Linked DNA regions of Homo sapiens. Changing the gene in region 1 together with any one later gene gives a genetic interaction. Each region holds a gene or a part of one and is shown on either strand. Other genes may lie near its edges.

Region 1 (3,567 bases):
AGCCCCATATTAACTACATTGGCTGCTGGGGAGCCTGAGTGACGGGGGAAGGGGGCAGCCAGGGAGGGTGCCTAGGCCCTGTGGAGGGCTTGGTAAGGCAGAGGCTGGGGAGGCTGTGTGCCTCAACATTCACATATGGGCTTCGGCTGGGCGTGGTGGCACATGCTTGTAGTCCCAGCTACTCAGGAGGCTAAGGCAGGAGGATTGCTTGAGTCAGGGAGGTTGAGACTGCAATGAGCTGTGTTCACACCACTGCACTGCGGCCTGGGTGACAAAGTGAGACCCTGTCACACACACAGAAAAAGAGAATGTGGGCTTCAAAGCTGAATTCAAGTAAGTCAGGGTTCTTCCACTTGTAATGAACAACTTCCTTAACCTCATTGTCTCAGGTTCCTCGCCTGAGAAATGCGAGGAGAACGGCGCCTGCTGGTGGCGTGGGCTTGCCGATGAAATGAGCCATTCACCCATGCCTCTCAGCACAGGGCCTGCCCTGGGCCGCATACTGTGCATTGTCAGCTGCTGTCGGAGCTGGGCTAGCGGCCGCCTTGAGAGCCAGCAGTCCACGGGGGTTGGCGAGCTTCTGGGAGGAAAGGGTGGAACGTGACTGTCAGGTACAGAGCTACAGAGAACCCCAGCATGAAGGAGTAGGTGGCAGGGGAGAAGGACTCAACAGAGATGGAGAAAGACTAAGCCCAAAGGTGATCAACAACAAGAGTGAAGGAGGAAGTGGTCAGCTGTGGCTGGGGCAAAACAAGCCCAGTAAGTTACATTGGCCTGTGTTTGGTCATCCAGGGACAAAGTGACCTTTTTAGTGCCTGTAGGCCCAGCGCGTTGGGGAAGAATTTAGAATGCAGTGGGGATAGGTGTGAGAGGAGCGGGGGAAGTGAAGATTGAGTTGAGACCACTGGCTGGAGAACTTGACCGGGAAGGGAGGGCAGAGAGCAGCATGGGGTGAGGGGAGGGAATGGATCCAACGAGCGTCTTAGGATGAGGGAGTTGTGAGCGCTCAACACCATTACAAAGAAGGGATCGGGGATTGATAGACTGACAGATGCATGCACAGAGGCAGGTATGGATGCATGCACAGAGGCAGGGATGGATGGACGGACAAATGCATGCATAGAGGCAAGGATGGATGGATGGACAGATGCATGCACAGAGTCAGGGATGGATGAATGGACAGATGCATGCACAGAGGCAGGGATGAATGGACGGACAGATGCATGCACAGAGGCAGGGATGGATGGACGGACAGATGCATGCACAGAGGCGGGGATGGATGGACAGATGCATGCACAGAGGTGGGGATGGATGGATGGACAGATGCATACACAGAGGCAGGGATGAATGGACAGATGCATGCACAGAGGCAGGGATGGATGGATGGACAGATGCATGCACAGAGGCAGGGATGAATGGACAGATGCATGCACAGAGGCAGGGATGGATGGATGGACAGATGCATGCACAGAGGCAGGGATGAATGGACAGATGCATGCACAGAGGCAGGGATGGATGGACAGATGCATGCACAGAGGCGGGGATGGATGGATGGACAGATGCATGCACAGAGGCAGGGATGAATGGACAGATGCATGCACAGAGGCAGGGATGGATGTACGGACAGATGCATGCACAGAGGTGGGGATGGATGGACAGATGCATGCACAGAGGCGGGGATGGATGGACAGATGCATGCACAGAGGCAGGGATGGATGGATGCACAGATGCATGCACAGAGGCGGGGATGGATGGACAGATGCATGCACAGAGGCGGGGATGGATGGACGGACGGATGCATGGCCAGAGGCAGAGATGGATGGGTGGGTAGATTGGACGGACAGATGATGGTAGGTTGTTCTTGTCCTGGAGGAGGTGATCCAGGCTGAGTCCTCACACTGGGCAGAGCAAGAGGCAGGAGGTGAGCATGGGGAGATGCAGCTGTGTGCCCCAGTGCACCGGAAGTTACAGATGACATCGATGTCCTGTCCTGATGAAACAGGAAACACATTTGTCATTTGAGAGTTAGTGGCTGGGGCTGGGTGGAAGCTTGAGGGGCTGTGGGCCTGGAATGGGGCTGAGGGGAGCGTGCAGGAGCTGCCTGCCAAAGCCTGGAGCAAGGATGACAGGAGGTGCCGGGGCCCCTGTGGACTGCCCTCTGGGAATCTTGTGGGGCTGGGTCTGCACAGCTGTGGTTGTGTAACTTCCCCCAGATGCATGGCGTGACAAGGGTGCAGGAAGGGGTGCAGGGCCCGGAAGCCCAGTATGGCCAAGGAGAGACAAGGCAGGGAAGAAGGTGAGAGATGAAAGATATCGCCCTGATTGAAACACCAAACTACCCCCAGTTTCTCAGAAAAAGGACTCAGAGCAACAAGAGAACCTACAGTCGACAGGGAAATTCGTCAGTGCGGATGTGATTTGAGCAAGACCATTGAAGCCCCTGCTGAAAGGCAGGCTGGCAGAGCCAGGGTACCTGGCCATCTACCTTGAAGTCTCTGTGCCTCAGTTTCCTCCTCTGTAAAATGGGCATAGGAGACAGGTTTGGTGAGAAGTGAACGAAAACGTGTTTGCTACCCCTCTTAGGTCTCACGTTTCATGCTTAGACGCTCAGCGAGTGGCTTTAGGGACCGAGAGAAATTTGCTTTTCAGTTCACCAGGTCGTTACCTATGAACCTGCCCTGAACAGTGCTGACCTTAGTTAGAGATGGCCATGAAACTCATCCGCATGGGGTAACTGGGGCCTCCCTGTGGTGCTGCGGGGCTGTGTCTCTGTCTTGGTCTCTTCAGGCCTCTCAGCAGCTGGAGCAGGAGCTGGCAGGCGGCTCACCGGTTGATGAGGAGCTGGGCTTCAGCCGGGGCTGGCGTGTGAATCCTCTGGGTCCTGGCAGTCCTGAGCGCCTGAGCTGAATACAGAGGGAAGAGGCTGGGAGCAAGGCCGGGTGCTGGGGCCGGCAGGCTGTGTTCTGAGAGTGCCTGCTAGAGGAGCTCTGTGTTCCCAAGGAGATGGAGGAAGACCTGGGGTGGGGGTGGTACAGGGTAGGGAGAGGAGGGGCAGAGGCTGTGAACAGGGAGATGGGGGAGGGGGGATGGAGGACTCAAGGGATGTAAGGGATATGGCTTGAGGAGGGATGGGGGCAGGAATGAGGGAAGGTCTTGGGTCAAGGACATGGACCTACATCCCCAGCAGATGGGGGTGGCAAGGGGGAGACGGGTGGGGGTCGCTGACTATAGACTGTAGCTGGGAGGAGGGGATGCTCCCAGGGCTGGGGCTGCCTGAAGAGAATGGCACGCACCTTGTAGGCTCCTGCCCTCACCCCACCGCCCTCTTAAGTTTCTTTTATTTTCTTTTTCTTTTTTTTTCTTTTTACTTTTTTTGAGACGGGGCCTTATTCTGTCCTCCAGGCTGGAGTGCAATGACATGGTCATGCGTCACTGCAGCCTCCACCTCCCGGGCTCCAGCGATTCTCCTGCCTCCCTGCCTCAGCCTGGGACCTGAGTAGCTGGGACCACAGGCATGCGCCACCACTCCTGGCCAATTTTTAAAATTTTTTTGTAGAGATGGGGATC
Region 2 (3,375 bases), about 27 Mb from region 1:
GCGTCTCGCTGGGCCTCCCCAGCCCTAAAACAGCAGGGCTGGTCCACATATTCTCTGAAGACCCTTTCAAGGCTGATTCTTGTTTTCTTTGTTTTTTGTTTGTTTGTTTTTAGATGGAGTCTCCCTCTGTTGCCCAGGCTAGAGTGCAGTGGCTCAATCTCAGCTCACGGCAACCTCCACCTCCCAGGTTCAAGCTATTCTCCTGCCTCAGCCTTCCAAGTAGCTGGGACTACAGGCGCCTGCCACCACGCCCGGCTAATTTTTGTATTTTCAGTAGATGCGGGGTTTCGCCCTGTTCACCAGGCTGGCGTCAAACTCCTGACCTCAGGTCATCAACCCACCTTGGCCTCCTGAAGAGCTGGGATTACAGGCATGAGCCACCATGCCTGGTCTCAAGGCAGATTCTAAAAGACAGCCCTGACTTATTTTTCTAGAGACAAGCCAAACAGCATTTGTGGATTTATTTATTTATTTACGCATAAGCTTTTTTGTATCTTCAAATAGAAAAAGACATTTTACTCCTCCATCTTCTGAGGTATGGCCAAGCACTCTCCTTTGAGTGGGAGTGTGCTGTTGGGAGTGTCTCCTCATTTTTCTTGCACAAACCATTCCCATAAGGCAGGCATTTATTTTTAAGCAAACATTTATTGCATGCCAGATGGTGTTCATACATTATCTCATTTAACTCCCTCAACAGCCATGTGACTCAGGCATTCATATTAGTAATAATAGTTCATGTTTGCCTAGCACTCACAACTTGCCAAGCACTGGGCTGACAGCTTTACATGCGCCATCTCATCTAGTCTTCACAACCACCCTCAAAAGAACCATTATTTCATGGCTTGCACCTGTAATTTCCAGCACTTTGGGAGGCCGAGGTGGAAGGAACACTTGAACCCATGAGTTCAAGACCTGCCTGGGCAACAGAGCAAGAGCCCATCTCCACAAAAAGAAAACAAACAAACAAACAAAAAAACATTATTTCCCCTACATACCAGATGAGAAAGTTGAGGCACAGACAGGTTGAGATCCTAAAGCCAGTGAGTAGTAGAGAGGAGATTTCAGACATCCATGGGTTAACTCCAGAGTTGCTGCTCTTTTTGTAGGTTTTTTTTTTTTTTTAATTTATTTATTTTTGAGACAGAGTCTCACTCTGTCATCCGGGCTGCAGTGCAGTGACACAATCTTGGCTCACTGCAACATCTGCCTCCTGGGTTCAAGTGATTCTCGTGCTGCAGCCTCCTGAGTAGCTGGGATTACAGGCACATGCCGCCGTGCCCAGTTAATTTTGCTATTTTTAGTAGAGACAGGGTTTTGCCATGTTGCCCAGGCTGGTGGTCTCAAACTCCTGGCCTCAAGCAGTCCTCCCGCCTCAGCCTCCCAAAGTGCTGGGATTACAGGTGTGAGCCACCACTCCTGGCCCAAGTTGCTGCTCTTAACTGTGAAGTTCTCCTGCCTCCCACAGTTTATTATTATCCCCGTTTCCCCGGTAGGGAAACTGAGGCCTCAGAAATGAAGCCCCTTGCTCAGGATCAGCAACTGTGATGCAACAGAGGCTCAGAGCCCTGCCGCTGGGTAATGGCAGCAGCTTCCCCAGCTGGTGGTGCAGGTTGGCAGATCTATTGAGTCCCAGGGGCCCTGGCTGGAGGAGGTGTGCAGCCTCGCCTTCAGAGCCTGTTTTCCTTAACCAAGTGCCTCCCACTGCCCCCTGCCTGGGGGGGTCTGCGGAACCATCCTCAGCTACATTGTGCAGGACCTGATGGAGACTGACCTGTACAAGTTGCTGAAAAGCCAGCAGCTGAGCAATGACCATATCTGCTACTTCCTCTACCAGATCCTGCGGGGCCTCAAGTACATCCACTCCGCCAACGTGCTCCACCGAGATCTAAAGCCCTCCAACCTGCTCATCAACACCACCTGCGACCTTAAGGTCAGAGGGTTGGGCACCTGTCCCCTCCTCCCCCAGGGTCTGGGGCTTCCAGTGACCAGTAGAAGAAGCCTTGGGCAGGAGAACATTGCAAGCAAAGGGAACAGTGGAGGCAAAGACAAGGGGGCGTGACTGCTTAGGCTGCAGAGGCCTTGAGCGCCGAGCTTAGCAGCTAGGTCTGATTCCAGATTTGTGATTTCGGCCTGGCCCGGATTGCCGATCCTGAGCATGACCACACCGGCTTCCTGACGGAGTATGTGGCTACGCGCTGGTACCGGGCCCCAGAGATCATGCTGAACTCCAAGGTAGGAGGGGCTGCCCACTCCTGAAAGGAACGGACCAGTTCCCAGGAAGCCCTGGAGCTACCTCTGAGCCAGACACTGACCCCCATGACACAGGAATTCTACCCTCTGGGCCTTGGGCTCTGCAAGGAAGCTGAGCATTGAGCCCTCCAGGCCTCTGCCTTCTGCCTGGTGTTGGATCTAACTTGGAGGTGGTGGCCTGGCGCAGACAACAGGACCCTGTTGAGGCTGGCCCAGGAGCTCACCACTTCCTCCTCTCCCCCAGGGCTATACCAAGTCCATCGACATCTGGTCTGTGGGCTGCATTCTGGCTGAGATGCTCTCTAACCGGCCCATCTTCCCTGGCAAGCACTACCTGGATCAGCTCAACCACATTCTGGGTGAGGGAGGCCCGGCTGGCTGAGTTGGGGATGATTAGCTTTTCCGAGGTGAGATTTCTCGAGAGTCCAAGTCAGGGATACCACCACGTGTGGGGTGCCTCCAGCATCTCATGGTATCTCAATGAGGTATAGATATTATCCCCATTGGATAGATGGGAAAAGCAAGGCTAAGTCCCACACCTGAGGAGGCACCAGACCTAGGATTTGAGCCTCGGTCTGCCTGAACCCAGCCCCCTTGCTCTGCACCACCATGCTAATGACTAGGAGGTGACTGAGGGATTGGCATGGGTTGCTGGGCTGGGGGGTCTTGTTCTTGCCTTGTTGCCTATTCTGTTCCCAGAAAGAAAGAGGTGATCATTTACCAAGTCACCTCCTTATCCACAGGCATCCTGGGCTCCCCATCCCAGGAGGACCTGAATTGTATCATCAACATGAAGGCCCGAAACTACCTACAGTCTCTGCCCTCCAAGACCAAGGTGGCTTGGGCCAAGCTTTTCCCCAAGTCAGACTCCAAAGGTTCGAGAGACATGAGGGTGGGTGTGGGATAAACCTTGGGTGTCGTGGAGGGTGTGTGAGCCCAGCAGCCGCTGGAGGAGACAGGCAAAGCAATGCTTCTCGGAGCTCCTCCAGTCTTCCCTGTGACCCCTGACTCCTGCCCTTCCATAGCCCTTGACCTGCTGGACCGGATGTTAACCTTTAACCCCAATAAACGGATCACAGTGGAGGAAGCGCTGGCTCACCCCTACCTGGAGCAGTACTATGACCC
Region 3 (3,567 bases), on another chromosome or scaffold:
TTGAGTCTCATGAAATGTAGGAAAAGATCTTATTAGGAAGAGAAACCATGTGGCCCAGTCCCTGAGACGGGAAGGGCCTGCGTGGTCCTGATGACATCTGCGGATCTTTTAAAATCATACGATCATGTCTGCGAAACCGGGATGCCACTTCCCACCTGGCTTCTCCCTGACCCCAGCTTGTTCCCTTGGAGGGCCGGTGGACTCCTCAGCCTTGCAGCAATGAAATCAGGCCTTGAGGCCACCCCACCCGTGACCTGCGGTGCTGTCCCCATGCAAGAAACTGCCTCGCTCCAGCCCCCAGCAGATCCTGTCCCAGCCCCCAGCCCTGGTCCAAGCCACCTCCACTCCCACCTGGTGACGGGCCACCTCCTTCATTCCGGGGCCCACCCACACTTCCCAAGTCCACACACAGTGGCCAAGAGTGAAGGCCGGCGAGGCCCCCGCATGACTCCCTCACCTGCACCCTTCACGAGCGGCCCCGCAGCCCGTCCCCACCAGCCCCTCTCTGCTGCCAGGGTGCTCCTGCTGCTCTTTGCTCTTTGCAAGACTGAACCTGCGGGAGGGTTCGGGCCCACGAAGGCCGCTTCTGTGGGGCTTCTGTCTAAGGAGGCCGCCGTCTGCCGAGGTGACTGCAGCCTCCGGCGCCTCTCTCCCTGCAGGTTGTTCCTGGTCATTGAGTACGTCAACGGCGGGGACCTGATGTTCCACATGCAGAGGCAGAGGAAGCTCCCTGAGGAGCACGCCAGGTGGGTGCGCGTGGACGGGGCCGGGTGGGTGCGCCCGGAGTTGGGGATGGGTGGGTGCGTGCGGTGTTGGGGGGCTGGGTGGGTGCGCACAGAGGGATGACGGGTGGGTGCGCGCGGAGTTGGGGGGCCGGGTGGGTGTGCGCAGAGGGGAGGTGGCTGGGTGGGGTGTGCACGGAGGGGGTATGACGGGGGCGGGGGGGGCGGGGTGCACGTGGAGGGGGCCGGGGACCTTCTCCAGGGGTCAGCAGGGAGCTCAAGGGAGGGAAGTCCAGGTAGGATGGCAGAGGGCATCATGTCCCCCACAGTGTGACGTCCCCTGCATTGTGACACATTCCATATTTGCTCCAGAGTCACAACATTTGGGAGGTCTCCTGAGTTATGGTGCCTCAGACCAGTCCCCCAGGCCCCACCCCTGAAGCAGCACCATGCCTCATCCGAGAGAAGTGAGAGTCTCCTGGGATTGTGCTGTCTTCATGGTGGCTCTGCCCTGGTTCTGCTCTTCACCCTGTTAGTGGCACAGCATGGCCAGCATTTCCTCAGCGTTAGGAGCAGAACGAGAGTGGTCTGTTTCTAGAGTGACCTGAGAGACTCCTTCCTGCCCTTCCCTTTCATCTCTGATATCTTCGGGCCTCCCCTGGCAGCCGAGGGGCCTCCAGCATGGTTCAGGAGCCTCCCCCGGCAGCCGCGGGACCTCCAGGACCGTTTGGGGGCTTATTTCAGCTCCCTGGACCTTTCCTGTCTTTTGTAGTTTCTCCTTTTCCTCATTTCCTTACTTAAGAACGTTGCATGCAGTTTTGTGAGTCACCTTAGATTGTTTCTGGCAATAGGACAGTAGGCAATAAATCTAGAACAGTACACTTCCCACAACGCTGTTTTTAAAAACTGTGGCAACACACAACATAAAAGGTAGCATTTTGGGGCATGGAATTCAGTGGCGTTGAATGCACCCCATGCTTTGCAGCCACTGCTGGCCCCCGTCTCATCTCCAGAGCACGCCCCTCTTCCCTGCTGAAGCTTGGCCCATCAGACACTCCCTCCCTGTCCCCCGCCCCAGCCTCACATCCTCACCCCAGACGGGCACGTCCCACTTTCTGTCCCTCTGATTCGAGGACTCTAGGGACCTCATCGGAGTGGAATCACAGTGTTGGTCCTTCGGTGGCTCATTTTCCTGAGCATAGCGTCCTCAAGATTCATCCGTGCTGTGGCCTGTCTCAGAATTGCCTTCCTTTTTCAGGCTGGATAATGCCCCGTTGGATGGAGGGGCCACACTTTGCTTATCCGTCCATCCCTCGGGGGGCACTTGAGTGGCATCCACATGTTGGCCATGGTGAACAGTGCTGCTGTGAACATGGGTGTGAAGTAATCTCTTGAACACCCTGCTTCCGGTTCTTTGGGGTATACACCCAGAAACTGAATTGCTAACCACATAAGAATTCCATATTTAGGCCGGGCGTGGTGGCTCACGCCTGTAATCCCAGCACTTTGAGAGGCCAAGGCGGGCGGATCACGAGGTCAGGAGATCGAGACCATCCTGGCTAACACGGTGAAATAACACAGTGAAACCCTGTCTCTACTAAAAATACAAAAAATTATCCAGGTGTGGTGGCGGGCGCCTGTAGTCCTAGCTACTCGGGAGGCTGAGGCAGGAGAATGGCGTGAACCTGTGGGCAGAGCTTACAGTGAGCCAAGATCGCGCCATTGCACTCCAGCCTGGGTGACAGAGTGAAACTCTGTCTCAAAAAAAAAAAAAAAAAGGTCATATTTAATTTTTTTTTTTTTTTGATGGAGTCTCGCTCTGTCACCCAGGCTGGAATGCAGTGGTGGGATCTCAGCTCACTGCAGCCTCTGCCTCCCAGGTTCAAGTGATTCTCCTGCCTCAGCCCCCAGAGTAGCTGGGACTACAGGTGTGCGCCACCATACCCGGCTAATTTTTTTGTATTTTTAGTAGAGACGGAGTTTCGCCATGTTGCCCAGGCTGGTCTTGAATTCCTGACCTCAGGTGATCTGCCTGCCTCGACCTCCCGAAGTGCTGGGATTACAGGTGTGAGCCACCAAGCCTGGCACCGTGTTTAATTTTCGAGGACCTGCCGGACTGTCTTCCGCAGCAGCGGCGCTGTTCTGCACTCCTACCACAACGTGCCATGGCTCCGGTCTTTCCCGCATGGAAGCTGTCGTGTTATTTGCCCGCTCCTCCCCTTGTGGAGGCTGCCACATCGTTCTCTGTGTCTTTGACAGCAGGCCATCCTAAGGCGCATGGGGTGGTGTCCTGGAGCTTTCATTGGCATTTCCCTCCCTGGCCCTGTGCACTGCACTTTCAAATCCTGGGCCTGGTCATTGAGAGGATGCCGGGCCCGTGGTGGGGCAAACGGGAGTGTGTGGCCCCCAGGCTGGAGCTGTTGGCGCAGCCTCTGGCACAGGCACTGCCCCCATGACGGCATCCCCACCCCCAGGTTCTACGCGGCCGAGATCTGCATCGCCCTCAACTTCCTGCACGAGAGGGGGATCATCTACAGGGACCTGAAGCTGGACAACGTCCTCCTGGATGCGGACGGGCACATCAAGCTCACAGACTACGGCATGTGCAAGGTGCGTGCCTTGGACCGCCTCCCCTGACCATCCCGCATGTGCGTCTCGGGGCGCCTGTCCCGCGGGGTAGTGTCTACAAGAACCCTCTCCCAGTAACTTTGCCCCCACAGGAAGGCCTGGGCCCTGGTGACACAACGAGCACTTTCTGCGGAACCCCGAATTACATCGCCCCCGAAATCCTGCGGGGAGAGGAGTACGGTGAGTGCCGCTGCCCTGGCCCCTCTCGGAGCACACA
Region 4 (3,567 bases), on another chromosome or scaffold:
TGTACACTGCTTGTAGTTATAGTGACAGCTTTCCATGTTGAGATTCTCATATCATCTTGTATCTTAAAGTTTCATGTGAGTTTTTACCGTTAGGATGATTAAGATGTATATAGGACAAAATGTTAAGTCTTTCCTCTACCTACATTTGTTTTCTTGGCTAGTAATAGTAGTAGATACTTCTGAAATAAATGTTCTCTCAAGATCCTTAAAACCTCTTGGAAATTATAAAAATATTGGCAAGAAAAGAAGAATAGTTGTTTAAATATTTTTTAAAAAACACTTGAATAAGAATCAGTAGGGTATAAACTAGAAGTTTAAAAATGCTTCATAGAACGTCCAGGGTTTACATTACAAGATTCTCACAACAAACCTATTGTAGAGGTGAGTAAGGCATGTTACTACAGAGGAAAGTTTGAGAGTAAAACTGTAAAAAATTATATTTTTGTTGTACTTTCTAAGAGAAAGAGTATTGTTATGTTCTCCTAACTTCTGTTGATTACTACTTTAAGTGATATTCATTTAAAACATTGCAAATTTATTTTATTTATTTAATTTTCTTTTTGAGATGGAGTCTTGCTTGTCACCCAGGCTGGAGTGCAGTGGAGTGATCTCTGCTCACTGCAACCTCCGCCTTCTGGGTTCAAGCGATTCTCGTGCCTCAGCTTCCTGAGTAGCTGGAATTACAGGCAGGTGCCACCATGCCCGACTAATTTTTTTTTATTTTTAGTAGAGACGGGGTTTCACCATGTTGGCCAGGCTGGTATCAAACTCCTGACCTCAAGAGATCCACTCGCCTTGCCCTCCCAAAGTGCTGGGATTACAGGCTTGAGCCACCACGCCCGGCTAAAACATTGCAAATTTAAATGAGAGTTTTAAAAATTAAATAATGACTGCCCTGTTTCTGTTTTAGTATGTAAATCCTCAGTTCTTCACCTTTGCACTGTCTGCCACTTAGTTTGGTTATATAGTCATTAACTTGAATTTGGTCTGTATAGTCTAGACTTTAAATTTAAAGTTTTCTACAAGGGGAGAAAAGTGTTAAAATTTTTAAAATATGTTTTCCAGGACACTTCACTTCCAAGTCAGGTAGGTAGTTCAATCTAGTTGTTAGCCAAGGACTCAAGGACTGAATTGTTTTAACATAAGGCTTTTCCTGTTCTGGGAGCCGCACTTCATTAAAATTCTTCTAAAACTTGTATGTTTAGAGTTAAGCAAGACTTTTTTTCTTCCTCTCCATGAGTTGTGAAATTTAATGCACAACGCTGATGTGGCTAACAAGTTTATTTTAAGAATTGTTTAGAAATGCTGTTGCTTCAGGTTCTTAAAATCACTCAGCACTCCAACTTCTAATCAAATTTTTGGAGACTTAACAGCATTTGTCTGTGTTTGAACTATAAAAAGCACCGGATCTTTTCCATCTAATTCCGCAAAAATTGATCATTTGCAAAGTCAAAACTATAGCCATATCCAAATCTTTTCCCCCTCCCAAGAGTTCTCAGTGTCTACATGTAGACTATTCCTTTTCTGTATAAAGTTCACTCTAGGATTTCAAGTCACCACTTATTTTACATTTTAGTCATGCAAAGATTCAAGTAGTTTTGCAATAAGTACTTATCTTTATTTGTAATAATTTAGTCTGCTGATCAAAAGCATTGTCTTAATTTTTGAGAACTGGTTTTAGCATTTACAAACTAAATTCCAGTTAATTAATTAATAGCTTTATATTGCCTTTCCTGCTACATTTGGTTTTTTCCCCTGTCCCTTTGATTACGGGCTAAGGTAGGGTAGAGTGGGTGTAGTGAGTGTATATAATGTGATTTGGCCCTGTGTATTATGATATTTTGTTATTTTTGTTGTTATATTATTTACATTTCAGTAGTTGTTTTTTGTGTTTCCATTTTAGTGGATAAAATTTGTATTTTGAACTATGAATGGAGACTACCGCCCCAGCATTAGTTTCACATGATATACCCTTTAAACCCGAATCATTGTTTTATTTCCTGATTACACAGGTGTTGAATGGGGAAAGGGGCTAGTATATCAGTAGGATATACTATGGGATGTATATATATCATTGCTGTTAGAGAAATGAAATAAAATGGGGCTGGGCTCAGTGGCTCACGCCTGTAATCCCAGCACTTTGGGAGGCTGAGGCAGGTGGATCACGAGGTCAGGAGATCGAGACCATCCTGGCTAACACGGTGAAACCCCGTCTCTACTAAAAAACAGAAAATTAGCCGGGCGTGGTGGCGGGCGCCTGTAGTCCCAGCTACTCGGGAGGCTGAGGCAGGAGAATGGTGTGAACCCGGGAGGCAGAGCTTGCAGTGAGCCGAGATCTCGCCACTGCACTCCAGCCTGGGCAACAGAGCAAGACTCTGTCTCAAAAAAAAAAAAAAAAGAAATAAGAAAATGGGAAGCAATATTTGACATAGTTCTTTTTAGTCAAATCTACTTGTTAAAAAAAGGGTAGCAGTTTATTCATCTGTGAAAGGAAAATAATACTTATCTTACAAGGTTGCAAGAGCTCAAGGAGACCATGTATGTAAAGTTCCTGCTGTAAATATGAACTCCCATCCTAATACCCTTTTACCTCTCTGTGGGTTTGTCTTGACCTGGAAATTTGGGCTAAAACTTAGAAAAAATTCTTACATGATAACTCAGTGATGCTTACTCATAGTTTTTGGTGTTTCTCATAGATAAGATATAAATCAGCTGGGCGCGGTGGCTCATGCCTGTAATCCCAGCACTTTGGGAGGCCGAGGCGGGCAGATCACCTGAGGTCGGGAGGTCGAGACCAGCCTGACCAACATGGAGAAACCCCGTCTCTACTAAAAATACAAAATTAGCTGGGCGTGGTGGCTCATGCCTGTAATCCCAGCTACTTGGGAGGCTGAGGCAGGAGAATCGCTTGAACCCAGGAGGCGGAGGTTGTGGTGAGCGAAGATCGTGCCATTGCACTCCAGCCTGGGCAACAAGAGCAAAACTCTGTCTCAAAAAAAAAAAAAGATATAAATCACAATAAATAAATAGGTCAATACAAATGTTAGCCAGGCGTGGTGGCACATGCCCATAGTCGCAGCTACTCTGGAGGCAGAGGCAGGAGGATCACTTGAGCCCATGAATTTGAGGCAGCAGTGAGCTATGATTGTGCCACTGTACTCCAGTCTGGGTGACAGAGTGAGACCCCATCTCTAAATAAATAGGTCAAACCCTTAAAAATATTTAAATTCTTAAAAAATTGAAAAGATTATTCTTCTCAAATTTAGTTGAGCTTTCTAAGAGAAGCAATTGGCTTTTTCCCACTTCAATAATCATTTTCAGTTTGACTCATACAGTTAACACAATGTGAATTTCTTCCTCAGCATAACAGAGTTATAGAATGACAGGGCTGGAAGTGACCTTAGAGAGTATCCAGTTCTTTCATTTTACAGGTGAGGCAACTGAGACTCAAAGGTGATGTAATTTGTGCAAAGATTATAGCTAATTAGTAGCAGAGCCCTGACTGGGACATAGTTTGAAGGTGAAAAACTTCACCAAGCTACCTTTCTTGAAAGGTCCAAATGTTTA

The links.
Region 2: changes in MMP25 (region 1) and MAPK3 together harm fitness more than expected from each alone (negative genetic interaction), as found in Homo sapiens cells (one large-scale study listed by BioGRID).
Region 3: changes in MMP25 (region 1) and PRKCZ together harm fitness more than expected from each alone (negative genetic interaction), as found in Homo sapiens cells (one large-scale study listed by BioGRID).
Region 4: changes in MMP25 (region 1) and XIAP together harm fitness less than expected from each alone (positive genetic interaction), as found in Homo sapiens cells (one large-scale study listed by BioGRID).

The regions. Positions count from the first base shown.
Region 1 is NC_000016.10:3,053,043-3,056,609, forward strand, and holds part of MMP25 (matrix metalloproteinase-25 preproprotein), read left to right. Parts: exon of another isoform or gene 1-764; coding exon of another isoform or gene 765-1,733; exon of another isoform or gene 1,734-1,990; intron 1,991-2,013; exon of another isoform or gene 2,014-2,132; intron 2,133-2,213; coding exon of another isoform or gene 2,214-2,296; intron 2,297-2,693; exon of another isoform or gene 2,694-2,787; coding exon of another isoform or gene 2,788-2,907; intron 2,908-3,567. Other genes in the region: sialidase-like, read right to left, coding at 765-1,733. UniProt on the Homo sapiens protein: May activate progelatinase A.
Region 2 is NC_000016.10:30,116,904-30,120,278, reverse strand, and holds part of MAPK3 (mitogen-activated protein kinase 3), read left to right. Parts: intron 1-1,740; coding exon 1,741-1,930; intron 1,931-2,115; coding exon 2,116-2,232; intron 2,233-2,494; coding exon 2,495-2,609; intron 2,610-2,993; coding exon 2,994-3,125; intron 3,126-3,275; coding exon 3,276-3,375.
Region 3 is NC_000001.11:2,168,859-2,172,425, forward strand, and holds part of PRKCZ (protein kinase C zeta type), read left to right. Parts: exon of another isoform or gene 1-592; intron 593-635; coding exon of another isoform or gene 636-659; coding exon 660-746; intron 747-3,196; coding exon 3,197-3,332; intron 3,333-3,442; coding exon 3,443-3,530; intron 3,531-3,567. UniProt on the Homo sapiens protein: Calcium- and diacylglycerol-independent serine/threonine-protein kinase that functions in phosphatidylinositol 3-kinase (PI3K) pathway and mitogen-activated protein (MAP) kinase cascade, and is involved in NF-kappa-B activation, mitogenic signaling, cell proliferation, cell polarity, inflammatory response and maintenance of long-term potentiation (LTP).
Region 4 is NC_000023.11:123,908,486-123,912,052, forward strand, and holds part of XIAP (E3 ubiquitin-protein ligase XIAP), read left to right. Parts: 3' UTR 1-3,567.